Linked DNA regions of Homo sapiens: region 1 is linked to region 2. The links come from fine-mapping of genetic effects on gene expression. A gene starts in region 2. The other region holds a variant in brackets. All regions are shown on one strand. Distances are from middle to middle. Region 1 overlaps LOC105371348 (a long non-coding RNA gene). Region 2 holds the start of TMEM231 (transmembrane protein 231).

The links. PIP is the estimated chance that this variant, and not a neighbour inherited with it, causes the effect. A credible set is the group of variants that fine-mapping cannot tell apart.
Region 1: its variant is the best candidate, but not a certain one, in a credible set for the expression of TMEM231 in whole blood (TOPMed, PIP 0.60).

The regions. Positions count from the first base shown.
Region 1 is chr16:75,766,179-75,781,431 of GRCh38, reverse strand. The region is part of intron 2 of LOC105371348 (a long non-coding RNA gene); the gene reads right to left. Among named protein-coding and RNA genes, the nearest start is that of CPHXL, 47 kb to the right of the region's middle. The variant T/A (reference allele first, on the strand shown) is at 8,391.
Region 2 is chr16:75,548,036-75,563,288 of GRCh38, reverse strand. It overlaps TMEM231 (transmembrane protein 231), which reads left to right and starts at 7,037. Exons shown (of 7, transcript NM_001077418.3): 1 at 7,037-7,218; 2 at 7,316-7,485. The coding sequence starts at 7,080. RefSeq lists silencers at 2,924-3,218, 6,867-6,976, 7,267-7,346 and enhancers at 6,607-6,716, 6,747-6,826, 12,941-13,000, 13,041-13,110.

The sequences.
Region 1 (15,253 bases), 220 kb before region 2:
TCCACCTCCCGTTTCTGTAATTGATCTGTATTACAGCTGCATGAATGGCCAGATTGTACTAGGTCCATCTTTTTTCAAACATATTCAAGCCCATGCAGGGAGAATAAGCTCACGTATTCTTGGCTATGAGTAAAGTAAGTTTTCAAAAGTGGAAAGTAAGCTCATGAAAGGAAATGAAGAAATTAGAACACTTACTTGACCTCCACCCTAAATTCATCCAATAACCTGATTAGGGGTTTTGTTTTTTTTTTTCAATTTTTTTATTGACACACAACAGATTATACACATTTTGGGGACATATGTGATCATTTGATACATTCATATAATGTGTAAAGATCAAATCTGGGTAATTGGAATATCCATCACCTTAAATATTTGTCTTTCTTTATGCTGAGAACATTAAAATTATTCTTTTCCAGCTATTTTGAAATGTGTAATTGATTATTGTTAACTATAGTCATTCTACTGATCTGTCTAAACACCAGGTCTTATTTCTTCTATCTGACTGTATGTTTGTACTCATTAATCAACTTCTCTTCCCCGTTTTACTCTTCCTGGCCTCTGATAAGCACTTCCTGGCCTCTGAAAGCAACTTATCTCCATGAGATTCACTTTTTTAGCTCCCACAGGCAAGAATATCAGACATTTGTCTTTCTATGCTTGGCTTATTTCATTTAACATAATGACCTCCAGTTCCATTCATGTTGCTGCAAGTGACAGGATTTTATTCTTTTTTGTAGCTGAATAATATTCTGTTGTATATATGTACCACATTTATCCATTGATGGGCATTTAGATTAATTCCATATTTTGACTGTTGTGAATAGTGCTGCAATAAACATGAGAGTGCAGATATTTCTTCAATAATATTGATTTTCATTTATATATATCTCCAGTAGTGGAATTGCTGGATCATATGGCAGTTCTATTTTCCATTTTCTGAGAAAGCTCCATACTGTCTTCCGAAGTGGCTGTGCTAATTTACATTCCCACCAACAGTGTATGAGAGTTCGCCTTCCTCCACATCCTCACCAGCATCCGTTATTTCTAGTCTTTTGATAAAAGACATTGTAACTGAGGTAAGATTGATTCAGCTGGGCAGGTGAGCCCCACAGTGGGGCTTAGTCCAGAGTGTTCTTGGCTTTGCCCAGGAAATAATTCAAGGACAAACAGGAGGTGGAAGAAAGTTTTATTGAAGAGGCAGTGTTACAGCTTTGTGACTCCTCCTCAGAGCAGGGCTACCTTCTAGACAGAGAGTAGCAGCTTAGGGCAGTTTTGCAGTCATATTTATACCCATTTTTAATTGCATGCAGATTAAGGGGTGGTTTGCACAGACATCTCTAGGGAAGGGGCACTAACTTTGGTGTCATCTGGTCATTGCTATAGAAAGGGGCAGTAACTCCCGGGTGTTGCCATGGCAATGGTAAATTCATATGGCACATTAGTGGGTGAATCTGATTAGAAAGCTGCTTCCACCCAAGCCCTGTTTTAGCTAGTCCTCAATCTAGTCCGGTGTTCAAGTCCCACCTCTGGAGTCAAGTCCTGCCTCCTACCTTAAGATGATATCTCATTGTGGTTTTGATTTCAATTTCTCTAATGATCAATGATGGTTATTTTTAATATACTCATTGGTCATTTTTATGTCTTCTTTTCAGAAATGTCTGTTCAGATCTTTTTCTTATTTTTTAATTGGATTTTGTATTCTTGCTATTGAGTTTTTCTAGTTCCTTATATATTCTGGTTGTTAATCCTAGTCAGATGCATAGTTTGCAAATATTTTCCCCCATTCTGTGGGTTATCTCTTCGTTGTGTTGACTGTTTCTTTTGCTGCTTTTTAGTTTGATGTAGTCCCATTTGTCTATTTTTGCTTTTGTTGCCTGTGCTTTTGAAGTCTTACACAAAAAAATATTTGCCCAGATCAATGTCCTGGAGCATTTCCTCAAAGTTTTCTTCTGGTAGTTTTATAGTTTTGGGTCTTATATTGAGGTCTTCAATCCATTTTGATTTTATTTCTGTATAGAGTGACAGACAGGGGTCTGCTTTCATTCTTCTGCATATGGCTATCCAGTTTTCCCAAGACCATTTATTGAGAAGACTGTCCTTTCCCCACTATATCTTCTTTGTTGAAAATGAGTTGATTATAGGCCAGGTGCGGTGTCTCACACCTGTAATCCCAGCACTTTGAGAGGCCAAGGCAGATGGATCGCATGAGGCCAGGAGTTCAAGACAAGCCTGGCCAACATGACAAAACACCATGTCTACTAATGATACAAAAATTAGCCGGGCATGGTGTTACAAGCCTGTAGTCCCAGCTACTCAGGAGACTGAGGCACAAGAATCACATGAACCCACAAGGCAGAGGTTGTAGTGAGCCGAGATCACCCCTCTGCACTCCAGTCTGGGCAACAGAATGAGACTGTCTCATTTAAAAAAAGAAAAAAAAAAGGAAAGAAAGAGAAAGAAAGAAAGAAAGAAAGAAAGAAAGAAAGAAAGAAAGAAAGAAAGAAAGAAAAAAAATGAGTTGGCTGTAAATATATGGGGTTATATCTGAATTCTCTATTCTGTTCCATTCTTCCATGTGTCTGTTTTTATTCCAGTACCAAGATGTTTTTATTAAGATAGCTTTCTAGTATATTTTGAAGTCAGATAATATGATGCCTCTAGCTTTGTTCTTTTTGATCAGGATTGCTTTGGCTATTCGGGGTCTTTTGTAGTTCTATGTATATTTTAGCAGTTTTTTTCTATTTCTGTGAAGAATGTCGTTGATATTTTCATAGAGATTGCATTGAATCTGTAAATGGCTTTGGGTAGTATTGCCATGTTAACAATATTAATTCTTCCAATCCATGAGCATGAACTCTCCTTCCTTTTTTGTGTCCTCTTCAATTTTTCTATCACTCTTTTATACTTTTTCTTGTATAGATCTTTCACTTGACTAAATTGATTCCTAGGTATTTTATATTCTTTGTAGCTATTGTAAATGGAATTGTTTTCTTATTTTCTTTTTCAGATTACTCACTGTTGTCATACATAAATGCTCCTGGTTTTGTATGATTTTGTATCCTGCAGCTATGCTGAATGCATTTATCAGTTCTAACACTTTTTCAGTGGAGTCTTTTGGTTTTTTCTAAATATAAGATCATGTCATCTGTGAATAAGGCTAATTTGACTTCTTCTTTTCTAATTTGGATGCCCTCGATTTTTTTCTCTTGCCTGATTGCTCTAGCCAGGACTTCCAGTATTATGGTGAATTAAAGTGGTGAAAGTAAGCATCCCTGTCTTCTTCCAGATCTTAAAGGAAAGGCTTTCAATTTTTCCCCATTCAGTACATTAGCTGTGGGTCTGTCACATATGCCCTTGATTATTTTGAGGTATGTTCCTTCTATAATCAGTTTTTTTGAGGACTTTTGTCATGAAAAATATATAGATTTTTTTTTCGTTTTTCCTTTTCTTTTCCTTTATTTTTATTTTTATTTTTTTATTTTGTTTTATTTTTTTTTTTGAGACAGGGTCTGGCTCTATCGCCCAGGCTGGAGTGCAGTGGTACGATCACAGCTCACTACAGCTTCAACTTCCTGGGCTCATGCAATCATCCCACCTCAGCCTCCCAAGTAGCTGGGACTGCAGGCCCTTGCCACCACACTCGGCTAATTCTTGTCTTTTTTGTAGAGACAAGGTTTCACTGTATTGCCCAGGCTGGTTTGGAACTCCTGGGCTCAAGCAATCTGCCCTCCTCGGCCTCCCAAAATGCTGGGATTACAGGTGTGAGCCACTGTGCCTGGTGGGATGTAGAATTTTATCAAATGCTTTTTTGACATCTATTGAAGTGATCATATGGGTTTTGTTCTTGGTTCTATTAATGTGAAGTATCATGTTTATTGATTTGCATATGTTGAGCCATACTTACATCCATAGGATGAATCCCATTTGGTCATGATGAATGATCTTTTTAATGTGTGGTTGAATTTGGTTTGCTAGTATTTTGTTGAGAATGTTTATATCTACATTCATCAGTGATATTGGCCTGTAGTTTTCTTTTTTTGTCATGTCCTTGTCTGGTTTTGGTATCAGGTTAATGTCCACCTCATAGAATGAGTTTGGAAGTGTTCTCTCCACTTCAATTTTTTTGAAGAGTTTGAGTAGAAGTGGTATTAGTTACTCTTTAAATGTGTGGTAGAATTCAGCAGCGAAGACATCAGGTACTGGGCTTTTCTTTTATAGGAGACTCTTTTTTTTTTTTTTTTTTTTTTTTGAGACGGAGTCTCACTCTGTCGCCCAGGCTGGAGTGCAGTGGCACGATCTCAGCTCACTGCCAGCTCCACCTCCCGGGTTCACGCCATTCTCCTGCCTCAGCCTCCTGAGTAGCTGGGACTACAGACGCCCGCCACCACGCCCGGCTAATTTATTTTTTGTATTTTTAGTAGAGACAGGTTTTCACCGTGTTAGCCAGGATGGTCTCGATCTCCTGACCTTGTGATCTGCCTGTCTCGGCCTCCCAAAGTGCTGGAATTACAGGCGTGAGTCACCACGCCTGGCCAATAGGAGACTTTTTATTATGGCTTCGATCTCATTACTTATCATTGGTTTGTTAAGGTTTTCCATTTCTTCATGGTTCAGTCTTGGTGGGTCAGGAATTTATCCATTTCTTTTAGATTTTTCCAATTTGTTCGCATATCATTCAGAATTGTCTCTAATGATTCTTTATATTTCTGTAGCCTCAGTTGTTATGTCTCCTTTTGTTGTTCCTAGTTTTATTTATTTGGGTCTTCTCTCTTTTTTTCTTAGTCTAGCTAAATGTTTGTCAATTTTATGTATCTTTTAAAACTTTCTTTCCAACTTTCCATTTTGTTGATTTTCTATATTTTGGGGGTTTTTTGTGAGGGTTATTTGTCTTAGAAACTGAGTCTCACTGTCACTGTGTTACTAGGTCTTTATGGCCCTATGAAATTGGGTCTCACTATGTCTAAGAAACTGGGTCTCACTATGTCACTATGTTATCCTGCCAGTGAATCAAGGTGGTGTGGAAGCTGGTGGTCCATCTTGACCTCACTTTTTCCAGTGCAGAAACCCTGAATCAAGGGGAAATTTCCTGCATGGCTTGGTGGTAGACAGATTAGAGGGAAGGGTGTTGTGGATATGGAAGTCCAATTATCTTACTGTATACTCAGATTTTTTCCACTTCTCCATGGCCCTGGGAACTGTCTCATTCCCATATATGAATTCTGGGATATTGCTGGTGATAATCTCAGCACTGTATATTTATTTTTTGTTTTCTGGGTAGGGATGTGAAGCCAGCTTGCTTCTACACTGCCATTTTGGAACCAGAACTGATTAGGTTTTGAAATCATTTGTGTATTTTTCATTTAATGTTATATAATTTTATCAAGTACTACAAGTATACCAAAAAATATACAAATAATACACAGTCCTGTGATAATAGATCTGCCTGCTCCCAGTTCTCTTCATCAGAAACATACCCCATATTATAAATATTATTATATTTATAATAAAAATATTGTATATATTATTTAATATATATAACATTTATATTTTATATTATATTATTTATAGATTGAGAAATTTATATAACTATTGCCTTACCAGTTTGATAAATAGAAGATATACCTCACAGTCATTATTCTGTTAACTTCAGACAATATATCTTTATTCCCCATTATGCAAAATTAAGATATTAACAACCCTATCGTTTTCTTTAATTCAGCAACTCCCTCCTCAACCTCCCAGCTTCTCTCAAGTAGAATTTTGCTTGTCTATCAACACAGTAAATGATATTTGCATTAAGTAGCTATAATTGAATCTTGTTTGCTTATACACAGGTAAAAAAATTAGTTTTGATTGAAAAACATCACTTCAACCTCATTGAAACCACAAGAAACATACTTAATTTTAAAAATAACTATGTAAGTATAATTTTCTCAAGAGCCACAGTGTGCTATAATTAGATTTCCTTCTCAGAAGTCCAACACACTCCCTTGATGGGGAACGTTCTTAGAATCTAATCAAATGGAGCTTCTACTCTTCCTCTCCATAGATTATTCAAAATTATGCCACATTATACTATATTCTTATTTTGATAATAAACTAAGTAAGCAGTTTCTTTGTTTAAATTTCTGATATTTTTATTTCTTCATTTTGAGAGAAAAATACATAGACCTTCATTAATTTACTACCAAGATCTTCCAGATTCTCATTAATTCTGTTCATTACAAGGAGTCTCCTCTCCTCCAATTCCTTTAGGATCTTATCATCTAGTTGGAGAAAGAGAAATAAAACTGGACAGAGTATTGTGTTTAAATGTCAGCACTTTGTTTTACAAATGATGCTGACAAACTTGGATGAATCTAGGATAAAGTTAGCCAGATATTGAACTGCCCAAAAACTGAATTATATGAATATTAATTTTTAAAAGCAAATATATTTGGCCTAGAGAAAGCAAGACTTAAGATCATGATATCTGTTTACAGATCTCAGAAAGTATGCTATTTTAAATAGGAACTATACAATTTTTGCATAGCTTCATGAAAGAAAACAAAGACCAACATTTGAAAATTTCAGGGAGGCATGTATTATTACACTATCTCTAACTTTGCAAAAATAACTCCATCTGAAAGTGAGCTAGTGTGTTTCTGATCACTGGATGCTTTCAAGTAGATTCCCATTACCCATGGGCCTGGAATATTCCACAGGATTTAGGCTTTGGATAGAAGTTACAACTAATATCTTCCACATTTCATTAAATGCCTGTATCTGTGAGTCTAAATGGATCTAGCACAGACTTACGCATAATTGGTTGTATTATTTGTCAAATGCACATGTGAATTCTTGTTCTGTGAGTGGATTGCCAGTTCTGGGGAACATTGGCTTGTTAATTATTTCATGTATAATCCAAGCTATTTGTTATATATCTTTGTATTTGCTTTCCCTTTGTCCCTCATCTCTCCATTTAGAGTCATTTAGGGGAAATTTTCTTGCCGGGCAAATGAGTACATCCCAGGGTCAAAATGGGAAATGAAAGAGACTTAAAATACTTTTATTTCAGCTCTAGTGAGACTGAAAAGCAACTGACTCATGCAAAATTTGATAATTACATGTGGTTTCTTTATTTAACAGCTATCATTATGCCATTATGTATCAGACTATAATCTACTCAGAGTTTTCTTTCCTAATATTTGGAACTGATAAGTGAAAATGACAGCATTCCATGAGGAGGTATTTCACATTCTCCTTATTTCAGCAGAAGCATCTCTTCCATATTCTACAATTCCTTCAAGTTCTAATGAATTGTTTATGTATAGAGTGAAATAATATATTTTGTCCAATAATTGTATAGCTGATAATTTTATAAGTAGTAGTTTTTGTGAGTTGTTAACCCCCCACCATGGATGACAACAGCAGCAACAAAACTCTACGTACTCAGACATAAAATGTAGCCAAATTTTATTTAGAAACTTTTGCCTGGGCCTGGATTGGTGGCTCATGCCTGTAATTCCAACACTTTGGGAGGCCAAAGCAGGAGGATCACTTGAGGTCAGGAGTTCAAAACCAGCCTGGGCAACAAAGTGAGAACCCCATCTCTACCAAAAAAAAATAATAAATTTAATTTAATTTTTTAAAAATGTCTGGGTGTGGTGGCACACACCTGTAATCCCAGTACTTAGGAAGGCCAAGGTGGGACAATTGAGCTCAGGAGTTTGAGACCAGCCTGGACAACATAGCAAAACCCCATCTGTATGAAAAAAAACAAATGTTAGCTGGGCATGGTGGCATGTGCCAGTGGTTCCAGCTACTCAAGAGGCTGAGATGGGAGGATCACTTGAGCCCAGAAGGTCAAGGCTGTAGTCAGCCATGATAGGACCACTGCACTCCTCCAGCGTGGGCAACAGAATAAGACCCTGTCTCAGAAAAAAAAATTAAAAAGGAAGAAACTTTTGCATTTTAATAATTTTAGTGTTTAATTTATAATTCTTTTTAATTATCCATGACTTTTCAATGTAAAACAATATATTTTCATTATGCAATTATTTTTAATCTACTATAAATAATTAGAATAGGTTAAAGACAAAAATCTACTTAACATTAAAATACTAAAAATTTAAATATTGGAAGGTATTATAAAACTTGTGTAAAGTGCTCTAAAGCTTAAGAGTAATACACTTACAAACAAATAACTTGATAGTAGCAGCATGTAGATTTTCAGATACAAGATTTCTTTCTTTTTTATGGTTTCTCTCCTCTTTTTCAAGGATTATAATAACATATATGTTAGACCTTTCATTCTCTCTTTGGTCTTTTATCTTCCATTACTTTGCCTCTTCCTTTCTCTATTGGTATATTTCTTAGATTTATCCTCCAAATTGCTAATTTTCTCA[T/A]TTCAGCTACATCTAATCTGTTGTTAAATTCATCCATTGAATTTTTAATATTCAGTTACTGCATATTTCAGTTCTAGACTTGGTATTCAATCCTTTTTATTGGATTGAATAAAAAATCCAATTACTGGAATAAAAATTCCAGTTCCTGTTTAAATGTTCTATTTGATCATTTAATTTCTTGAACATTTTACATTATTTGTAAAGTCTTTACATTGTTTGTTAAAGACTATTAAAGACTTTACATTATTTGTAGTCTTTGTCTAGCTGTGATCTTCAATATTCATCTCTCCAGTTTTGTGAAACTGGCAAATGTTCTGCTCGGATGCTGGCTACTGCTTTCTGCTCTGGTTTTCAGCTGAAATCTCCAGCTCCTGCTTTCTCTATCAGCAAATGCGTTGAAGATATAAGTTATGCCAAATATTGAGCTCAAATCCTAGGATTACCTTCTTTCTGGGAATTTGTTTCATCAAATCTTTACTGCTTTGGTAGCTCTGCTATCCCATCAAAAACTCATAGTTCTTCCTTCTTTTATAGTTGTTTTCAGTGGAAGGGCTGCTCCAACACTATATAGCCATGTTTCTTTCTTTCTTTCTTTCAGAAGAAGAAGAAGAGGAGGAGGAAGAAGAAGAGGAGGAGAAGGAGAAGAAGATAGTGACAAGGATAGCAAATGCAAACCTAAGAGACAAAGAAATTCAACTACTAGAAGGACCACAGGCAAAATTGTGATATGGGATTATCTTCCTCTAATGTCATTTTACTTCCCTTTTTTTCACCATTACTTACATCTGTCATTTTCTTTCTACTGGGACCCAATGTCTTGTACATTCTAACTTCTTGGAAGTCTAAATCAAACTAGGAATCAGGAAGAAGATGATCATAGACAGCAAAAAATTACACATATATTGCATTATTTTACTCATCAGGAAAAGGCCTGTGAAATAAGTATTTATGAAATCACAGGAAGAGCTGAAGTAGAAGGACATCTACAGGCTCTTCTTAGTAGTCATCAAAATATACCTGGTAAGCAGCTACCTACCTAGAGATAAGATACCTCCTACCTTACAGTTCACTGGGATTCTATTAGAATTTATTTTTCACTCTGCATTACCTTTTTTGGTAATCTACTATATATCAGTGATATAGAAATTAACTGTATTCTTTTTAACCCCAAGAGTTTTCTCTTTGACTCAAAAGATATATGGCCTCTTGTGGTCTCCAATCAAAGCTTCTATTGGATATTTTATTTAGTGTAAGATTTCTTTCTACATATTCCCATTAATGCTCCCATTCACTCTCCATTTCCTGATCAGCACCTTTTTTTAACCACTGGATAGTTTATGTAAGTAAGACAGTGTTCTACACTCTACAAAAATAAAGTTAATTGAAACTTTGTATATTTTAAACTTGTTTTACTTCCTTTGGAATCTAATACATAACCCATATTCTGGAGGATAATGAATCAATTTATTTTGATTTGGTTCTCTGGTTGCAGTAATAATGTAAATTCAGGGGGGAAATGTAAATAAAAATTGAAAGCAACAAAAACAAATTTTCTGAATTATAGTAAAAATGCAGAATTAAATATGTCTTAAATGTTTAAACATCTTAGTGTATCTCAGTTGGAAGAAAAACAACCTCTGTGAGAACAGAAAGAAGATGACTAAAGAGCAGTGTGGTCTGAGAAGGATTCTAAGGTTGTTTTTTATCTTTAAAAAGAGGGGTTGGCAAAATATGATCCTTGGGCCAAATCCAGTCTGTGACTTTTCTATACATAATGTTTTATTGAAACACAGCCATTTATTTATATACTTACAATGGCTATTTTTGTACTACAATGGCAGTGTTGAGTAGCTGTGACAAACACAATCTGAAGCACAATACCTAAAGCATTTACAATTGGTACCTTTCTAGGAAAGATTTGCAGACCCCTGCTGAAGAAAATCTTGATGGTGGTAACATCAGCAAAAATGGCAGAGCAGGGACCCTCAAAAATTCACCCTTCCATAAAAGCAATGAAAAAATTATTTAAATGGTCAGAATTACCTTTTTCAGATCTCCAGAAATGAATCAAAAGATTTTGTGTGACTGAAGTGGATGTAGAAATTTAAAAAAAAAAAAGAATTAAAAGCTTCCCATGACCTGGGGAGAGTTTACTCAAGAAAAATGGCTGGATGGCTGTAAGAAAAGTTAGCTTTGTGACATTTTAACTTTCCCTGGTCCCACCCCCCACTCTCTAGCTCAGAAAAAGCCTTGAAAAATACTCATCTGCATTGCTGGTGCTGCCTAGCAGTCATCAGTGGGACCAGAATAGAGATGAAGCTCTTTCAAAGTATAATTCCCAAAATATTATCTCTTTTTTTTTTTTATTGAGACACAGTCTTGCTCTGTCGCCCAGGCTGGAGTGCAGTGGCACGATCTTGGCTCACTGCAAGGTCTGCCTCCCAGGTTCACGCCATTCTCCTGCCTCAGCCTCCCGAGCAACTGGGACTACAGATGCCTGCCAGCACACCCAGCCAGCTTTTTGTACCTTTAGTAGAGACAGGGTTTCACCATGTTAGCCAGGATGGTCTCGATCCCCTGACCTCGTGATCCACCTGCCTTGGCCTCCCAAAGTGCTGGGACCACAGGCATGAGCCACTGCACCCAGCCAATATTATCATTTCTTATTTGTCTGGTGGTTCTCTTGAAAAACTCATTAAGAGGCTGCCTTGGAGCTCACTCACTTCAGAGGATTTCTGTCAGGTGATGTTATTTTTGGAGACAATTACAGGCAAGTGTTTTAACTTTGTGGCTGCCTGAGGAGATTAACAACAGCTGAGGCAAACAAAGGACTAACCAAAAACCTTGAAAATAAAATAGAAGTTTGAAAATAAGATGTCTAGAAGGACATCAGAAGGCTCTGACAAAATCTCAGGGATCTAAATGACCATGTGTACTCCCAGGATAGTACACAAGCTCAGGGAAGACCTGGAAAGGCCCTCAGCTCTCATCTCTGCTTACCTTGAGGATCTATGTAGGCAGTAAGAAAAGGCTTAGATGGAGTTACAAGCTGCCTAAGTTTTGAGGACATGACCCAACATGCACAGAGAGCCCTTCAGCAAATGAAAGATTTATTGATTCCAGACCTCTAAGGAAACCTGTCTAATTACTAGCTAACCACTAAGCTAACTGAGTAGTGGCATCAATGCCCATACATGACAAAGAATACAAACTTTACTGAATTGCCTTAGAAATGTAAGTAAGAGCCGGGCGCGGTGGCTCATGCCTGTAATCCCAGCACTTTGGGAGGCCGAGGTGGGTGGATCACAATGTCATGAGATCGAGACCTTCCTGGCTAACATGGTGAAACCCTGTCTCTACTAAAAATACAAAAAAATTAGCTGGGCATGGTGGTGGGCACCTGTAGTCCCAGCTACTCAGGAGGCTGAGGCAGGAGAATGGCGTGAACCCGGGAGGCGGAGCTTGCAGTGAGCCAAGATCGCACCACCGCACTCCAGCCTGGGCAACAGAGCAAGACTCTGTCTCAAAAAAAAAAGAAACGTAAGTACGCAAACAGGTAACAATAACCAATAAGCAACAATAAAAACAAGCCATGGACATGTAGGAAAATCTGATTTCCAAACTTGCCACATAATACCTATTAAAATGTCCAGGTTTCAATAATGTAAAAAATTATAAGTCATGCAAAGAAATAAAGTACTGCCAACACACATACATAAAAATAAACAATCAATAGAATTTGTCCTAAAGGAAGCCCAGATATTGGACTTACTAGAAAAGACTTTAAATCATTTAGTCTAAATATGCCCAAAGACCAAAAGGAGAGTGTGCCTAAAGAAGTATGAGAACAATGTCTAACCAAACAGAAAACATCAATAAAGAGATGGAAATTATAAAATTCAACTTTAAAATAAAAGTTATAAAATTGAAAAGCTTAATAACAGAAAAGAAAAATTCACTACAGGTTCTCAGTAACAGATATGAAAAGACATAAAAAATCAACAAATTTCAAAATTGGTCAATTGAAATTATCCAGTCTGAGGAACAGAAAAGAAAAAGAACAAAGAAAAATGAACAGAGTTTCAGAGACCTGTGGGAAATTACTGAAAGTACCAATATATATGTAATGGGAGACCCAGAAGGAGAGGAGAGAAATGTCAAGAACCAATATTTGAAGAAATAATGCTTGTAAACTTCCCAAATTTGTTGAAAAATATTGGTTTGCACACATGAACTTCAAGTGTAATAAACTAAAAAGATTCATACCTCAATACAACATAATCAACCTCTTAAAGAATGAAGATGAAAAAACTTGGTATCAGCAAGTAAGACATGATTCATATACAATGGCTTCTCAGTAATATTAATAGCTGTTTCCCATTAGAAATCAAGGAAAAGAGAACATAAGACAATAGGATGACATATTCAAAGCAGTGAAAGTAAAAGACTGTCAATCAAGGAGTCTATATAGAGCAATACTATACTCCAAAATTGAAGGGGAAATTAAGACATCTCCAGATTTTTTTTAAAAAACCAAGAGAATTCATTGCTAGCACAGCTGTCCTGCAAGAAATACTAAAGGAGTTCTTTTAGGCCTAGATGAAAGTTATTTGGCAGTAATTCAAACCCAAATGAAGAAATAAAGAGTACTGGTAAATGTTAACTATATGGTTAAATATAAAAGACAGCATAAATGATTTTTGTTTATAGTTATTTTCTTTTCTTCTATCTGATTTAAAAGACAACTACATAAACCAGTAATTATAAGTCTATGTTGATGGGTACACAAGCAATAAAGATCTAATTTGTAAAAATAACAGCATAAAGAAGGCAGGTAGGCTGGGCATGGTAGCTCATGCCTGTAATCTCAGCACTTTGGGAGACTGAAGCAGGAGGATCACTTGAGCCCAGGAATTCAAGACCAGCCTGGGCAATACAGCAAGACCCCATCTCTTAAAAACATATATAAGAATAAATTGTAAAAAGAAAAGGAAGAAAACAGAGTTACATTGGAGCAAACTTTTGTATACTACTAAAATTAAGTTGGTATTATATTGACTAGATTGTTATAAATTAAAATATTGGGCTGGGCATGGTGGCTCATCCCTGTAATCCCAGCACTTTGGGAGGCCGAGGCAGGAGGGTCACTTGAGGCAAGGAGTTTGAGACCAGCCTGGGCAACACAGGGAGACCTCGTCTCTACAAAAATTTTTGAAAATTAGCTAGCCATGGTGGCGTATGCCTATAGTCCCATCTACTTGCAGCAGAAGTGGGAAGATCACTGAGCCCAGGAGCCTGAGGTTGCAATGAGCCATGATCCTGCCACTGCACTCCAGCCTCATTGACAGAGCAAGACACTGTCTCTTTAAAACTTTAAAATATTAATTATAATACCATGGGCAACCACTAATAAAATAACTAAAATTATATATTTTAAGAGAAATGAAAGGTAATTAAAATGTTACACTATAAAATATCTATTTAACACAAAAGCATTCAAGAATCAAGGAATTGAGGAATACAATGGACATAATACATATAGAAAACAAATAGCACAATAGCAAAAAATAATTCTATCTTATCAGTAATTATATTAAAGTAAGTGGATCAAACTGTCAAACTAGAAGGAAGAGATTTGGAGAATGGATTTTTTTAAACACAGCACAATTATATGCTATTTACAATAGACACTTAAGATTTAAAGACACAAATAAATGGAACATAAAAGGATGGAAAAGATACACCAGCAATAACCAGAAGAGCTGGAGTAGCTATATTAATGCCAGGCAAAATTGACAAAATATTTTAAGATAAAAATTATTATTAGGGCAAAGAAGGATATTTTATAATTATAAAAGTGTCAGTTAATCAAGAAGATATAAAAATAATTAAAGTGTATGTACCTAACAACACAGCCCCAAAATGCATGAAGCAAAAATACACCGAATTAAAGGAAGAGACTATTCAAACTTAATAGTTGGACGCTTCAATAAAAAGGAGAATAGAAAAACAATCTGCCAGGGTCATGATAGTGCCAGCTCTCAAATCTGGGTCTAGGGTAAAAGAGAAATAAAACTAAAACCTGTCCGAAAAAAATTCAATCACAGTGAACCTGACTGGGAAAGGAGTAGAAGAGAGGGAAGAGCCAGTATCCAGGCAGCTGGGGAACCCAAAACAATTCCCCTTAGGGCTACTCCCTCCCTGGTATCTCCTGATGTCTGACCTGACCCTCCCCTCCATTAAGAATAGATGTCACTTTCCTCCGTTCTCCTCCACTCTCCTCCACTCACTGCTACTTCTCCCACTCCACATCAACAAACTGAGTCCCAAAAGCTTCTTAAATATCAGCCCTATGGCGCTCAGAGCTCGGAAATGCTGAAAGTCCTTCAGTACCAGATGCCAACTTAGAGAGGACAAAGGAGTAGGAAAGACTGAGCAGTGACCCCTACATCCATGTGCCACTATCCTATAGCACATTTGAGACTATTCTGAAGAGCAAGTTAAACTCACATAAAATAGAAATTTTTATCCTAAAAAATATTTCATATGAAACATTTATGGAACTGAAAAAGTACTATACTTCAATCTGGAGCAAAATGACTTTGGCTCTCACTCTGAAAATAAATGTTTAAATCATACTTGATGGAACAAAGTCAGCTGAAACTATGCACATTGGATTCACCAGGAGACATGTGTACACAGTGGGCTGCCTCTCCTACATAAAAAGGTCTTCATGGATATACAATGGGTCCTCATGAAACTGATTTTGCCACAGATTTTGGGGAACTGAGAGCTTTTTTCTTCCTCCAGGAGGGCACAACTTCCTTCTATTTTCCAGTTTTTGTGCTCTACCTCTTTAATTT
Region 2 (15,253 bases):
CACCATCTCCTAGTCAGTGAACCAGTGGAGGAGTTAGAAATTGGACTCAACACCCCTGCTTCCCTTTACAGAGCTGGTCATTGCATCCTAGTCCAAAATATATGTATATTGTCTTGCATGTGAAAGAGCTGAGAACACTTCTTAGGGGAAAATTTCACTGCACACCAATTCATAGACATGTCTTTTGATGGTCTCAATGATGTGCAATGCATTTTGGTCTTCCATCCTTACCTACTTTCTTGGTGTGTTTTCCCAGTTCACCATTCTAATTGACTTATTTCATCCACCTTGATGATATGTACCACCTTCTTTACATATTGGGTCATTGTATTTAGCTATGGAATGTTCTAAGGACACTGGATGCCTTCCTTGAGGGAGTGGTTAGTTAAGGACGTAAGTCAGGAGGAGAAATAGGATAATGAATATATGCAACGTAATTACACATTAACAAATCTATAAAACACAGAGAATGAATTTCAAATGTTGGAGAGGTATGTGAACATGGATACTGAGGCATTGCTAGGGCAATAGGGGCCAGCACAAAGCCAAGTGAGAATTAGCAAGGAAGACTTCACAGAGAATGTGAATCTTCTGTTGTAGAGAGAAGGGTACATTTTCATTGGGTAAACTTTTCCTTTCCAGATAAAAACAAAGGCTGGGGTTGGAAGAGGGAACAGAAAAGCAGTATAGATAAGTAAATAAAATGTTGGAAAGCTTTGAAGCAAACATTCAGAAGTTCTAACCTAATTCAGGAGACCCTGAATAAGAGCTCCTATAAAGGAGAGAAGAACATGATTAAAATGTGCAATTTGGGGCTGGGTGCAGTGGCTCATGCCTGTAATCCCAGCACTCTGGGAGGCCGAGGCAGGTGGATCACCTCAGGCCAGGAGTTCTAGACCAGACTGGCCAACATGGTGAAACCCCGTCTTTACTGAAAATACAAAAATTAGCCAGGCATGGTGGCACGCACCTGTGGTCCCAGCTACTCAGGAGGCTGCAGGCATGAGAATCGCCTGAGCCCAGGAGGTGGAGGTTGCAGTGAGCCAAGATAGTGCCACTGCACTCCAGCCTGAGCGACAGGGTGAGACTCCATCTCAAGAAAAAAAAAATGTGGCCAGGTGCGGTGGCTCACGCCTGTAATCCCAGCACTTTAGGAGGCCAAGGCAGGCGGATCATGAGGTCAGGAGTTCGAGACCAGCCTGACCAATAAGGTGAAACCCCGTCTCTACTAAAAATACAAAAAAAAAAAAAAAAATTCACCAGGCGTGGTGGTGAGCGCCTGTAATCCCAGCTACTCAGGAGGCTGAGGCAGGAGAATCGCTTGAACCCGGGAGGCGGAGGTTGCAGTGAGCCGAGATCGCCCCACTGCACTCCAGCCTGGGCTACAGAACAAGACTCCATCTCAAAAAAAAAAAAAAAAAAAAAGTGCAGTTTTAAGAGGATGACTCTTTTTGTCCTCAGAAATAAATTGTATGAAAAACAAGAACATTGTGGAAGTGGAAACTGAGAAGTCAGTTATCAGTCATGGGTGTATGGAAATGACACATATACACAGATCTTTAACATTTTTAAATCTATACTTTCTCTTAAAGAATTGAAATAAAACTACAAAACGAGCTTTCTCAAACCATGGAAGCAAAGAGTAAATAGTATCCATTATTACTAAATACTTTTGCAAAGTTCATGGCATCTCAGGGAAGGCTGAAGCACTTGGTACACCTAAATTCTTAGTAGTCACCTCCTTCTGTTTCAGGAGTGACTTTGGTACAGTATCTGTTTCCTTCCATTGAAAGAAGGAGCTTTGGAGGCAAACACTTCCTTCCTCACAGGATAGTGACTCTCAGGAGTCGACCCTAGATCCATCTATTCCAGAAGACCCCTGTGGTTATATAAATAAATGAAAGTCGGCTGGGCGTGGTGGCTCACGTTTGTAATCCCAGCACTTTGGGAGGCCGAGGTGGGCGAATCATGAGGTCAGGAGTTTGAGACCAGCCTGGCCAACATGGTGAAACCCCATCTCTACTAAAAATACAAAAAATTAGCTGGGCGTGGTGGCAGGTGCCTGTAATCCGAGCTACTCAGGAGGCTGAGAGAGGAGAATCGCTTGAACCTGGGAGGCTGAGGTTGCAGTGAGCCGAGATCACACCATTGCACTCCAGCCTGGGCAACAACAGTGAAACTCTCTCTCTCAAAAAAAGAAAGTCATCCACTTAAAGCATAGATATAGTGTGTCAGAATCAAACCATAGATTTAACCTTAACAATTGCTATATTTAAGAACTATGTTGAGGCTCAGTGTGGTGGTCCCAGCACTTCAGGAGGCCGAGGCAGGTGGATCTCTTAAGCCCCAGAATATGAGATCAACCTGCTAGCCTGGGCAACATGGCGAAATCCCATCTCCACCAAAAAAACAAAAACGAACAAAAACCTATGTTGAGGCCAGATACAGTGGCTCACACCCGTAATCCCAGCACTTTGGGATTACTCAAGAAGGATACTTGAGCCCAGGAGTTGGAGACCAGCCTGGGCAACATGACAAGACTTTGTCACTTAAAAACAAAATTTTTTTTTAGATGGAAGCGCCTAGGCTGGAGTGCAGTGGCACGATCTCAGCTCGCTGCAACCTCTACCTCCCGGGTTCAAGTGATTGTCCTGCCTCAGCCAAAAATTTTTTTAAAAATTAGCCGGGAATAGTGGCCTCAGCTATTCAGGAGGCTGAGGCAGGACAAGTACTTGAGCCCAGGAGGTAGACAGAGGGAGACCCTGTATAAAAACAACAACAACAACAAACTACATTGCCACCCCAGAAAAGCTTTTAATCAAGAACAAGTAGTATTGAACCTGATATTTCAAAAGCATTTTGTGGCTGATGACGTTGTCGTCTTGGACTGTAGTAAGGACCCTAGGATGGTTTTCCCAAATGGGCAGTCTTGACCTCTCTATTAAGTCTGTGATGTTAGGATGTCAGCTGTTCTCTTCATCTAAAAGCCACTTCGAGGTTGCTTTCAAAGTAGTGGGAGTAACTACTGGACTCCACCCAGCACAAACCTCACGCCATCTCCTGACACTGCAATGTGATCCTTCAGGGCTTTTTTTTTTTTTTCCCTTTCTTCAGACAGTCTCGCTCTCGCTCTGTCACCCAGGCTAGAGTGCAGTAGTGCAGTCACTGCTTACTGCAACCTCTAACTCTTGGGCTCAAGCAATCCTCCTTTCTTAGCATCCCAAAGTGTTACTGGAAAGGGGTCCCAATCCAGATCCCAAGAAAGGGTTCCTGGCTCTCAACACAGGAAAGAATTTGGGGCAAGTCCACAGAGTAAAAAAAAATGGCTACTCCATAGACAGAGCAGCAGTATGGGCTACTCGACTGAGTAAATTTATAGTTATTTCTTGATCCATATGGTAAACAAAGGGTAGATTATTCCTGACTTTTCCAGGAAAGGGGCAGAGATTTCCCCAGAACTGAGGGTCCCTCCCCTTTTTAGACTATATAGGGTAACTTCCGGACATTGCCGTGGCATTTGTAAATTGTCATGGCACCAGTGGGAGTATCGTTTAGCATGCCAATGCATTACAATGAGCAGATCATGAGCAGTGAGGACGACCAGAGGTCACACTCAAGGCCATCTTGGTTTTGGTGGCTTTTGACTGGCTTTTTTTCTTTTTTCTTTCTTTTTTTTTTTTTTCTCTGAGACAGAGTTTCGTTCTTATCACCCAGGCTGGAGTGCAATGGCGTGATCTCGGCTCACTACAACCTCCGCCTCCCGGGTTCAACTGATTCTCCCTCCTCAGCCTCCAGAGTAGCTGAGACTACAGGTGCCCGCCACCATGCCCAGCTAATTTTTGTATTTTTAGTAGAGACAGGGTTCCAGGCATGAGCCACCATGCCCGGCCTTGGCTGGCTTCTTTTTAACTGCATCCTGTTTTATCCACAGGGTCTCTGTAACCTGTATCTTGTGCCATCCTTCTAGCTCATACTGTGACTAAGAATGCCTTACCTCCTGGGAAGACAGCTCAGTAGGTCCCAGCCTTATTTTACTTAGCCCCTATTCGAGATGGAGTTGCTTTGGTTCAAACACCTCTGACAAAAGTGCTAAGATGAGCCACTTCACCCAGCCTCAACAGCCTCTTGACTGGTCTCCCTGACTTCTGTTTTTCCTCACCCCTCACTCAATGACCCCATCCTGGTATACTGTAAACCTAAAATAAAATTCTAAGCTCCCAACCATCTGAATGGAACCCTTGTCTCAGCCAAGGGCATTCCAAAGTTAACCTGAAAAACTAGTCTGGCCATCATGGGAAGTGGGGAGTCAGACGTAACTCATTATACCCTCCTCTTTTTGGAATTCAGACCCAGCTGACCAGTATTAGCATCAACACATAGATCTTAAGACTGATATTAATAGAACAGACTCTTAAAGTCTGATAAGAAACATTTACAATCTGTTCTCTCTGAAGCCTGGAGGCTTCATCTGCATGATAAAACATTAGACTCCACAACCCCTTATTGTTTTTTGTTTTTGTTTTTTTTTTGAAATGGAGTCTCACTTTGTCACCCAGGCTGAAGTGCAGTGGTATGATCTCGGCTCACTGCAGCTGCTGCCTCCCGGGTTAAAGCAATTCTCCTGCCTCAGCCTCCCAAGTAGCTGGGATTACAGGTGGACACCGCCAGATGCAGCTAATGTTTTTTTTTTTAATACATATTTTTGGTAGAGACAGGGTTTCACCATGTTGGCCAGGCTGGTCTTGAACTCCTGACCTCAAGTGATCTGCCTGCCTTGGCCTCCCAAAGTGTTGGGATTACAGGCGTGAGCCACTGTGCCCCGCCCACAAACCCACACATTCCTTTCTATTGATTCCAGGTCTTTAGATAATAACCAGTTGACAATTGGAAAAATCTCTGAATCTGCCAATTCTGTGGTCTGGAAGCCCCACCCCACCTCCACTTGTCTCATCTTTCAGTACTGAACCAATGTACATCTTACACGTATTGATTGATGTCTTATGTCTCCCTAAATGTATAAACTCAAGTTATACCCTATCCACCTTGGGCGTATGTCATCAGGACCTCCTGAGGCTGTGTCACAGGCATGTCCTTAACCTTGGCAAAATAAATTTCTACGTTGATTGAGACTTGTCTCAGATACATTTTGGTTTACACTACTGACATGCTGTCATTAGAGTGACTTTTCCAAATCACAAAGCTTATCATGTCTTTCCACTTAAATGTCATTTTACTGACCCTTTAACAAATTTACTTATATTTAAATATTTTGTATTTATTTTTTTAGAGACAAGGTCTCCTTCTGTCTCCCAGCCTGGAGTGCAGTAGTGCATTCATGGCTCACTGCAGCCTCCTGGGCTCAAGCCTTCCTCCTGCCCAGGCCTCCCGAGTAGCTGGACCTACAGGCATGAGCCACTGTGCTCAGCCACTCAGGACCTTTTTGTTGTTGTTGTTGTTGTTTGAGATGGAGTCTCGCTGCCACCCAGGCTGGAGTCCAATGTGTGATCTCCGCTCACTGTAATCTGTGCCTCCCGGGTTCAAGCGATTCTCCTGCCTCAGCCTCCAGAGTAGCTGGGATTACAGGTGCCCATCACCATGCCTGGCTAATTTTTGTATTTTTAGTAGAGATGAGGGTTCACCATGTTGGCCAGGCTGGTCTTGAACCCCTGACCTCAGGTGATCCGCCCACCTTGGCCTCCCAAAGTGTTGGGATTACAGGCGTGAGCCACCGTGCCCAGCCATTCAGGGCCATTTGATGAAGAAATTGGCTGTGGACCATAGATTTTTTTAAAAAGTCCTTCTACCATGTTAGAAATATTGGTTGGGGGTGGTGGCGGGGGGGTGTAGGCATTCAATTAAGCAATAAGCCAGTGATCTTTGGGGAGGACCATATATTCCTGTAAAACTCGCGGCTGAGCTGTACCCAACACAGGGTTAACGAAGTGCATCAGAGCTTTGTAGTAATTCCACTCTATCCGTGGAAGAGCCAGGGGATTTGTGTTTCCGTGTCTGTCTTGCATGGGAGCATAGTGGAAGCAACAGAAAATCTGGGGGCAAAAGCACCTGGCTTTGATCTCAGCCCAGGACCAGGTCCAGGACCACGGCCAGGCTTGTGACTGACTGGACTTCAGTAGGAACCACACTGGGGGTTAACAGATGACACAAAAGCAGGTGTTCGTTCTGTGCGGGAGACGCGCTAGGGGAGAAGAAAAGGCACACACACAGTACCTTTAAGGGTAAGCAAGCTTTATCCCACGTAAATGGCAATGCAGATATTATAATAAGCAAATTAATATAATAAGCAGATTGATATAATAAGCAAATTGCAATGGGAAGAGGAGAAGGAAAAAGACATATATATATATATATTTACACTCACCAGACTATGGAGGATTCACCTCCAGACTGGGAAGCAACGACCTGGGCTCCAGAGCCGGCCACTCGTCAGTGCACAGACGAGGAGAGGTCTCATGAAGCTTTTTGGCGTGGTCTGGGACCCTAGATCTTTTTGTAACATGTTGTCTAGCATGAGGCCCAGTCACGAGGGCCCTTTGCGACTGGGCTCAAGGAACACAAAAAGGTCAACTTGTTTTTGCGATTGTTGTTTTTCAATAACTGACGTATAGGAGTAGACTGAAATAGAGATTTCTCCGAAACAGCGCTGGATGAACGCCTCAAGGGGCTCCCACAACCTGTTTAGGGACTTGGTGACCATTGTTTGTGTCCATGTCAGTTGAAATTTAAATATTTAGTTCTTCCTCCTCAGTGTTCAAGTCAACTTTTATGGGCATCTTATTTTACACAAATGTTAACACAGACAACAGCCACGACTCTGGTCCACGGAAACGTTCTATCGCCGCCCAGCCTTTACGCAAACGTACACAGCTCGAAAAGCTAGGCCGACCGTCCCCGGCAGCGCCACGCCCGCTAACCCCGCCCCCGCCACTGGCTCCTTTCGGTGCGGCCTTGCTATTGGCTCCTTTCTGTGAGCCGTCGGTTGCCGTGGAGACCGAGGCGATGGCAACCAGGAGAAGCCAAACTTGGTCCCCCGGCTCGCGGAGTGCCTGCGAGCGGTGCTCATGGCGCTCTATGAGCTCTTCTCTCACCCGGTCGAGCGCAGTTACCGCGCGGGGCTCTGCTCCAAAGCCGCGCTGTTCCTGCTGCTGGCCGCTGCGCTCACGTACATCCCGCCGCTGCTGGTGGCCTTCCGGAGCCACGGTGAGCCTGCCCCGGCCGCTGTGCCACGAGGCTCCCCGGGCGCGCTCGGCCAGGGCCGGCCTCCCTAACCGCCTCCCTACCGCCCTCTTTAACTCAGGGTTTTGGCTGAAGCGGAGCAGCTACGAGGAGCAGCCGACCGTGCGCTTCCAACACCAGGTGCTGCTCGTGGCCCTGCTCGGACCCGAAAGCGACGGGTTCCTCGCCTGGAGCACGTTCCCCGCCTTCAACCGGCTGCAAGGGGATCGCCTGCGCGTCCCGCTCGTTTCGGTGCGTGGTTCCCGCCTGGGCCTGGGGCAGAGTCGGGGATAGGGTGGGGATGGGGACTGGAATGAGGATGTGGGGCGAGCGGCCCCGGCCCTGGGGAGCCCAGCTTTGATCCTAAGGACTCGCGAACCCGCAAAGGTGGCGTTTCATCTCCTAGGACCTAGGGAATCGATCTTCTGTTTCATTCTGCTTCTCCCAGATGTCCCCGGCCCCCAGAAAGTTAGCCATGCTGTCAGCGTGTGCGCCCTGACACAGAGTCCAGAAGTGTGGGGGCAGCCTGTGTCTGCCCGGGTCACACCCGCGGGCCTGGCCTGATGGAGGGTGTTTGTGAAAGTCCATTTAGGAGCCTGGAAGGCCGCGCGCTGTTAATGTAGATAACCCCATTCTGTCGCGGCGTTTCTGCATCACACCACTATAGGAACGGAAAGGGCAGCATTTTTATGCAGACCTGACCCCTGGAAACCAAGGCGCTGATTGGTTAAGCGGCCTTCCCAGAACGCGCTGTGGCCGAGTCACGCCTCCCTGGGTTTGTCCCATTGGAGACTGCGCCATCCTGAAGCTGTCGGGATGAAATGGAAGCATGTTACTGTCTGTAATTTATTTATTTATTTTTAAATTTTTTCACCAGTAGAGCGCTGAGAGGAATCTGTAATTTAGTATTTGCTTTGAGATAAGCGAATGCTTCCTTTGTAGTCACTCCTTTTCACTCATTTTCTGAAAACGTTTTCCTTTAGAAGTATGAAACTTCTGGTTTTCCTTCTTTCAAATTCGAATCTCTTCAGACATATCTAAGATGATTGCCCTACAAGCCAACCTTGTATAGCTGAGGAGAAAAGAAAATCAGACTTGTTCCCAGCAACTAAATAAAATTGTTTTTAAAAATCCGATTGGTCGTATAAATAACTGCAAAAAAAATAGTAATAGGTTGATGCAAAAGTCATTGCGGCTTTTGCCATTAAAAGTAATGACAAAAAACCGGAATTACTTTTGCACCAACCTAATATGATTCAGGTTACTTTTCTCCTATTACTTTATAAATGTTCTTATATTCTGATTACAAAAGTGCATGCTCATTCTAAAATATGATAGAGTTACAGGTAGATATAATGACAGAAATTGAAGGCTCAGTTTTGTATATGTATCAATACTTATTAATCAGCTGTATTCTTTTTGAGGTTTGCTTTGACTTTTTCACTATTAGGGACAACATTTCTTTTTTTCTTTTCTTTTTTCTTTTCTTTTCTTTTTTTTTTTTTTTTTTGAGACACAGTCTTGTTCTGTTGCCCAGGCTGGAGTGCAGTGCTGCAATTCTCTGCTCACTGCAACTCTGCCTCCTGGGTTCAAGCAATTCTCGTGCCTTAGCCTCCCGAGTAGCTGGGATTACAGGCTAATTTTTGGATTTTTAGTAGAGAAGGGGTTTCACTATGTTGGCCAGGCTGGTCTCGAACTCCTGACCTCAGGTGATCCACCCGCCTTGGTCTCCCAAACTGCTGGGATCATAGGTGTCAGCCACTGTGCCCGGCCTAGGGACAATATTTCAATGAACAAGGTTTTGACTAAATCTTATGCCTTTAAACATCAAATTTTGAGGAATTGGAATAGCAGCTCTTTGATGAAATGGTATAAGTACATAGAAAACTAAGCAAATAATTATTAACTGCAGGGAAATGAAAAGTAAGGAAAACTGAGAACCAAAATGTTATCAGAGTTGTGAATAGGATTGACATAGTCTTAATTATATGAACACTGAATGTTTACTAAAAAGAGATTTTAACTCTATTGGGGGTAATGAGAAAGGTATTGGGTATGTGATAGGGGATGGTGGGAGGAATTGGGGGAGAGAAGAAGCTAAATCATCTTTCCTTGTGGGAACTCAATAGAGAATGCCTAAAACTGAGAAACTGAGAATTTTCAATGCAAATGTTATCTCAAGACCTGGAGATACATTTCTAAATGATCAGGTAAATGAGATAAAAATATTTGCCGCCAGAAATGATAGCTCACACCTGTAATCCTAGCACTTTGGAAGGCTGAGGCAGGAGGATTGCTTGAGCCCAGGAGTTCAAGGCCAGTGTGGGCAACATAGCAAGACCCCACATTTCAAAAAAATAAAAAATTAAAAAGAAATAGAGAAGTGGTACAATTTGCCCTAGCTTTTCTTCTTTTCTTTTTTTTTTTTTTTTTTGCAACAGAGTTTCACTCTGTCAGCCAGGCTGGAATGCAGTGGCACAATCTCAGCTCACTGCAACCTCTGCCTTCTGGGTTCAAGCAATCCTCTCGCCTCAGCCTTCCAAGTAGCTGGGACTGCAGGCATGCACCACCACTCCGGGCTAACTTTTTTGTGTTTTTTAGTGGAAACAGGGTTTCACCATGTTGGCCAGGCTGGTCTAGAACTCCTCAACTCTGGTAATACACTCACCTCAGCCTTTCAAAGAGCTGGGATTACAGGTGTGATTACAGGTGTGAGCCACTGCTTTGAAGTGAACAGAGTCTGGACTGGAACTCAGTATTTCTTATGCTATATCTTAAAATCTTAGCCCTTATTGCAACAAACTACTTTTATTTTCTAACTTTGAACATAGAGCCAGACTGACGTCAGTCTATCCAGGAAACTGTCCAGAAGGCAAAGGAAACAGTGGTTGTTGATTAAGGTTGGACCAAGTGCTGGGAGGTGGCTTTGCAGTGGCTAATTGGGGGAAATGCTGAAGTCACAAACAGCCTTGCTTCTGCTTTGGTCAGCTCATCCTGGACAGCGTCTCTAAGCTCCCTACATGTTTAATGCTTTGGAAGTCTAGTTTTTGTTGTTTTTAATGAGAGAAGAGAAAAGCAGAGTGACTTTTTCCCCCTCAAGCCTCAAGGAGGCTGACATAGCTCTTGAAGGCATGTGTGGACCCAGAGAATACAGGGACTGAAGGTTATAGAAGGATTCCAGAGGATGAGTGGAGAGTACCGTGTTTCTAAGACACCTGTTTCTTCTCATCCCTGAAATCAGTGTCTTCCTGTCTGTGGTTATCAACTGTTGGCAAGGAGGCAGGTATGGCATAGTTCTCATTGCTTACACCTGTGCCGGCATCAAAACATGCAGAAGGGGCATCATTTCTGTGTAAGAGGTAGGTGTTAGAAAAATAAAAATGCAATTAAAAAGAAGGGGCATCAGCAACCTCAGAGGAAACCCCAGAGACAGTAGTAGAACATTTTTTTAACCCCTGAATTGAATGGAGAGCAAGTAAGGGAAAGTTTGAGAGGCTTTTAAAAACAGGAAAGCTCTCCATAATTTCAAAGTCTGCTTAAGGGCCCAGACCAATGGCTTTTAGTTTCTTTTATGAATTGTTTGTTTGTTTGTTTGTTTGTTTTGAGACAGGGTCTCACTCTGTCACCCAGACTGGAGTTCAGTGGCGCAATCTTGGCTCACTGCAGCCTCCGCCCCCCAGGTTCAAGAGATTCTCCTGCCTCAGCCTCCGAAGGAGCTGGATTACAGGCTCCTGCCACTACGCCTGGCTCATTTTTGTATTTTTAGTATAGATGAGGTTTTACCATGTTGGCCAGGCTGGTCTCGAACTCCTGAGCTCAAGTGATCTGCCTGCCTCGGCCTCCCAAAGTGCTGGGACTATAGGCATGAGCCACCATGCCCAGCTGAATTTTTGTTTTTTGTTTTTGTTTTTCTTTTAATGCTGTATCACCAACATGTTTGATGGCACAAAGGACAAAGTTGCATAGAAAAGTATGGGTTGTTGACTGAGTTAAAGTGTTACTCAAAAGGATGAGGATGTAAAGAAGTTTTAGGAATCCCTGAATCAATTTATTTTGCCTATATTTTTCTTTCTTTTCTTTTCTTTTTTTTTTTTGAGATGAAGTCTCACTCTGTTGCCCAGGCTGGAGTGCAGTGGCGCAATCTCTTCTCACTGCAACCTCCGCCTCCTGGGTTCAAGCGATTCTCCTGCCTCAGCCTCATGAGTAGCTGGGATTACAGGCAGGCACCACCACGGCCGGCTGATTTTTGTATTTTTAGTAGAGACGGGATTTCATCATGTTGGTCAGGCTGGTCTCGAACTCCTGACCTCAGGTGATCCACCCACCTCGGCTTCCCAAAGTGCTGGGATTACAGGCGTGAGCCACTGCCCCGACCTATTTTGCTTATATTTTTCTAAGTAAATAAACATATCTGTGTAAATATGTCTAAATCTAAAAGCTCTTTTAGTAACTTTTTAAAAAGTAAGTGATTAGAAAAGTGTCATAGTTTAATTGGAAATGTTTTTCTTTTATCAGTGGTATATAAAATAATGGTTCATTTTATAAGTAATGGTATCTTAGATTGAAATACAAGGCTGAGCACTGTGGCTCATGCCTATAATCTCAGCACTTTGGGAGGCTAGCCCCTTGAGCTCAGGAGTTCCAGACCGCCTAGGCAACATAGTGAGGCCCTACTATAAAAAATTTAAAAATTAGCCAGGGGTAGTGGTGAATGCCTATAGTCCCAGCTACTCAGGAGGCTGAGGTGGGAGGATCACTTGAGCCTGAGAGGTCAAGGCTGCAATGAGCTGTGATCGTGCCACTGCACTCTAGCCTTTTTTGACCCTGTATCAAGAAAAAAAGAAATAGAAAAAAAAAGAAATACAGGTAGAAAGGTGGAAAGGAACCACGAAGTGGCAGTTTCTGCTTTGCTAGAGACCCACAACTGGTGCCAAAGAGTATTTTTAGCTTAAAAAGAAAGGAGCACCCGGTGATGACAAGTATATGGTGAAATAGACACTGGTATAAACTAGGAAATTAACCTTTAATAAAAGAATATGGGCCGGGCGCAGTGGCTCACGCCTGTAATCCCAGCACTTTGGGAGGCCGAGGCGGATGGATCACCTGAGGTAGGGAGTTCTAGACCAGCCTGGCCAACATGGTGAAACCCCGTCTCTACTAAAAACACAAAAATTAGCCGGGTGTGATGGCAGGTTCCTGTAATCCCAGCTGTTTGGGAGGCTGAGGCACGAGAATTGCTTGAACCCGGGAGGCGGAGATTGCAGTGAGCTGAGATTGCACCACCCATACTCCAACCTGGGCAACAGAGCCAGACTGCATCTCAAAAAAAAAAAAAAAAGAATACGACTTAAATGAATGAAATGTACGCAAACAAAACAGAAACCAAACAAAATTCCAACAAACCGTCAGATGCTGGGAATTCCTGACGGGGAAAAAAGTCACACATCAGGATACTCTGGAAACAATGGCACTTGAATTTCTGGCAATTCCTGCAGTCAGGTGGTGTGCTGGTTATGAGGTATTGTCTCAGCTCCAAACCCACCCTCCTACGCTCAGCTTCCAGGTTCCTGCTGAGATGCTGGAAACCACCTTCTTCCCCTGCAGCTTCCTGTTAGGTTCTGCCAGTAGGAGGCATGATGAGCCTTGTTCTGGGAGTGCAGAAAAAAAGAAATGAAACCAGTCACCACTGCCAGGGTGAAGAACCACTGTGGATGCCACAAACAGGGACAACCAGCAAACAGGAAGGAGCAGGACGCCTCTCCTACCGGCTTCAAGGTTCCCTCTAGTGCATGCTTCCTCCAAGCTCAGAGGTCCTGGCCCCATCTGGGCCGCGGTCCCTTCTTGAAGTCTGAGGCTCAGCTCTTCGAGGCCTCTTCCCTGAACCTCTAAGTTCTATCAGTCCCACCCGCTTCCCCTTCTTCTCTAGTCCTAGGTGTGGGAAATGTTCCCTGCAGCTACTATCTCTGTGTTGCTGGGATATCCCCTTTTTACGTCTTCAGTCCTCTAATACCTATGGGACTATTTATTCCCTATGTTAAATTCCCTCTGGCCAGGTGCGGTGGCTCATGCCTGTAATCCCAGCACTTTGGGAGGCTGAGGCGGGCAGATCACCCAAGGTCAGGAGTTTGAGAATAGCCTGGCCAACACGGTGAAACCCCATCTCTACTAAAAATGCAAAAATCAGCTGGGCGTAGTGGCGCACACCTGTAATCCCAGCTAGTCAGGAAGCTGAGGCAGGAGAATCACTCGAACCTGGGAGGTGGAGGTTGCGGTGAGTGGCGATTGTGCCACTGCACTCCAGCCTGGGCAACAGAGTAAGACTTCGTCTCAAAAAAAAAACAAAAAAATTCCCTCTGACTCTGCTCAGTACATGCGTGTGGATTTCATGTGTATCTCTAAAGGGTTATCCTCCTTTAACCATGAGAAATCTTTTCAGTTAGAGTTCTTATGAGCTATTATAGAAGAGCCCTGAATCAGGAGTCAGCAAACCAAGATCCTTGTCCCACAAGGTCCTAGTCCCAATTCTGTCACTGGGTTTCATAACCTCACCCTCAATTTATCTATCCATATACAGGGCATGAGAGTACCCACATCTCTCCTGGGATATGCAGAGGAATCACGTGGGACAATGAATGGATATAAAAATTGTTCCAAAGCCTGTATATACGTTGTAGATATAAGGTGGTGGTGTGATATGTGAATTCTCTTGGCTAAGTACCAGTTGGAGGTTAGATAGCGACCTAGAATTTGTGTTAAAGAAGTAGTAGCCTTTGAATGCCTGCCTTTGTTAGCTATTGCACATATGTTAAACTTACTTTCAACTAAATGGAATTAAATAATTGATTTATTCAGTGGTCCAAGTGATAACAGAGGAGCACAGCCAAACTTCGCCAGCCCCAGGAGGGTGAGAGTCCAGCTTGGTGACAGGTCATTTGTGGGAGACACATCCTTTCCATCGAAACTTCTCTCCCCCCTCTCTCCACCCTGCTCTCCTTCTCACCCACTCTGCCAGATGCATTGATCCCACGGGTACCCAGAGCACATGTACCTGATTAGCCTGGATCCCTCCTCTCTGAGATGTTCCTGCACCCCATCACTTCACTTCCTTCAGGACTCCAACAAGTTGGGTCATCCTGAATATTTAAAAATTTCTGTTAAATTCTTTTTGGGTTTTTTTGTTGTTTGTTTGAGATAGAGTCTTGCTCTGTCACCAGGCTGGAGTGCAGAGGCACGATCTCGGCTCACTGCAACCTCCACCTTCTGGGTTCAAGCGATTCTCCTGCCTCAGCCTCCCTAGTAGCTGGGATTACAGGTGCACGCCACCATGCCTAGCTAATTTTTGTATTTTTAATAGAGGCAGGGTATCGCCATGTTGCCCAGGCTGCTCTCGAACTCCTGAGCCCAAGCAATCCACCCACCTGGGCCTCCCAAAGTGCTGGGATTATAGGCATAAGCCACCACGCCTGGCCAATTTCTGTTAAATTTTACCTTCATTATTCTCTAATTTTAGCCTGCTTCATTTCTGTCAGCGGCACTTGTCACTGTTTTCTACATTGTCCATCGGGAATGTATGCCCCATTAGGATGGGGACTTTGTCTATTTTGTTTACCATTATAGTCTCATTATTTGAAATAGTGCCTGGCGTGTTTCCAAAAAGTACGTAACAGATCAATGAGTGAATTTAACAAGTAGACACTATTGATGGTGTTGTGCCAAATCTGTCCCCCGCGAACTTGGAATGGAAGGATGTGCACAGGCAAGTATACAGACGTAGATGCCTGGTGCTGCTGTTTTTCAGGAAGATTTGTCCAACCTGCTGTCTTCATTTGGAATTTTTAAAATAATTTTAGACATTTTGGTCCTAAAAAGAGGACCAGATTTGAAGTCACCTGATCTCAAATCCTGTCTTCACCATTACTTGCTGTACCTCTGATAAATGCCCTAATCTCACTCATCCTTGATTTTGTCATCTGTGTAATGGGAAAATACCTGTTCTGCCTGCCTGGGGCTTTACATTTAT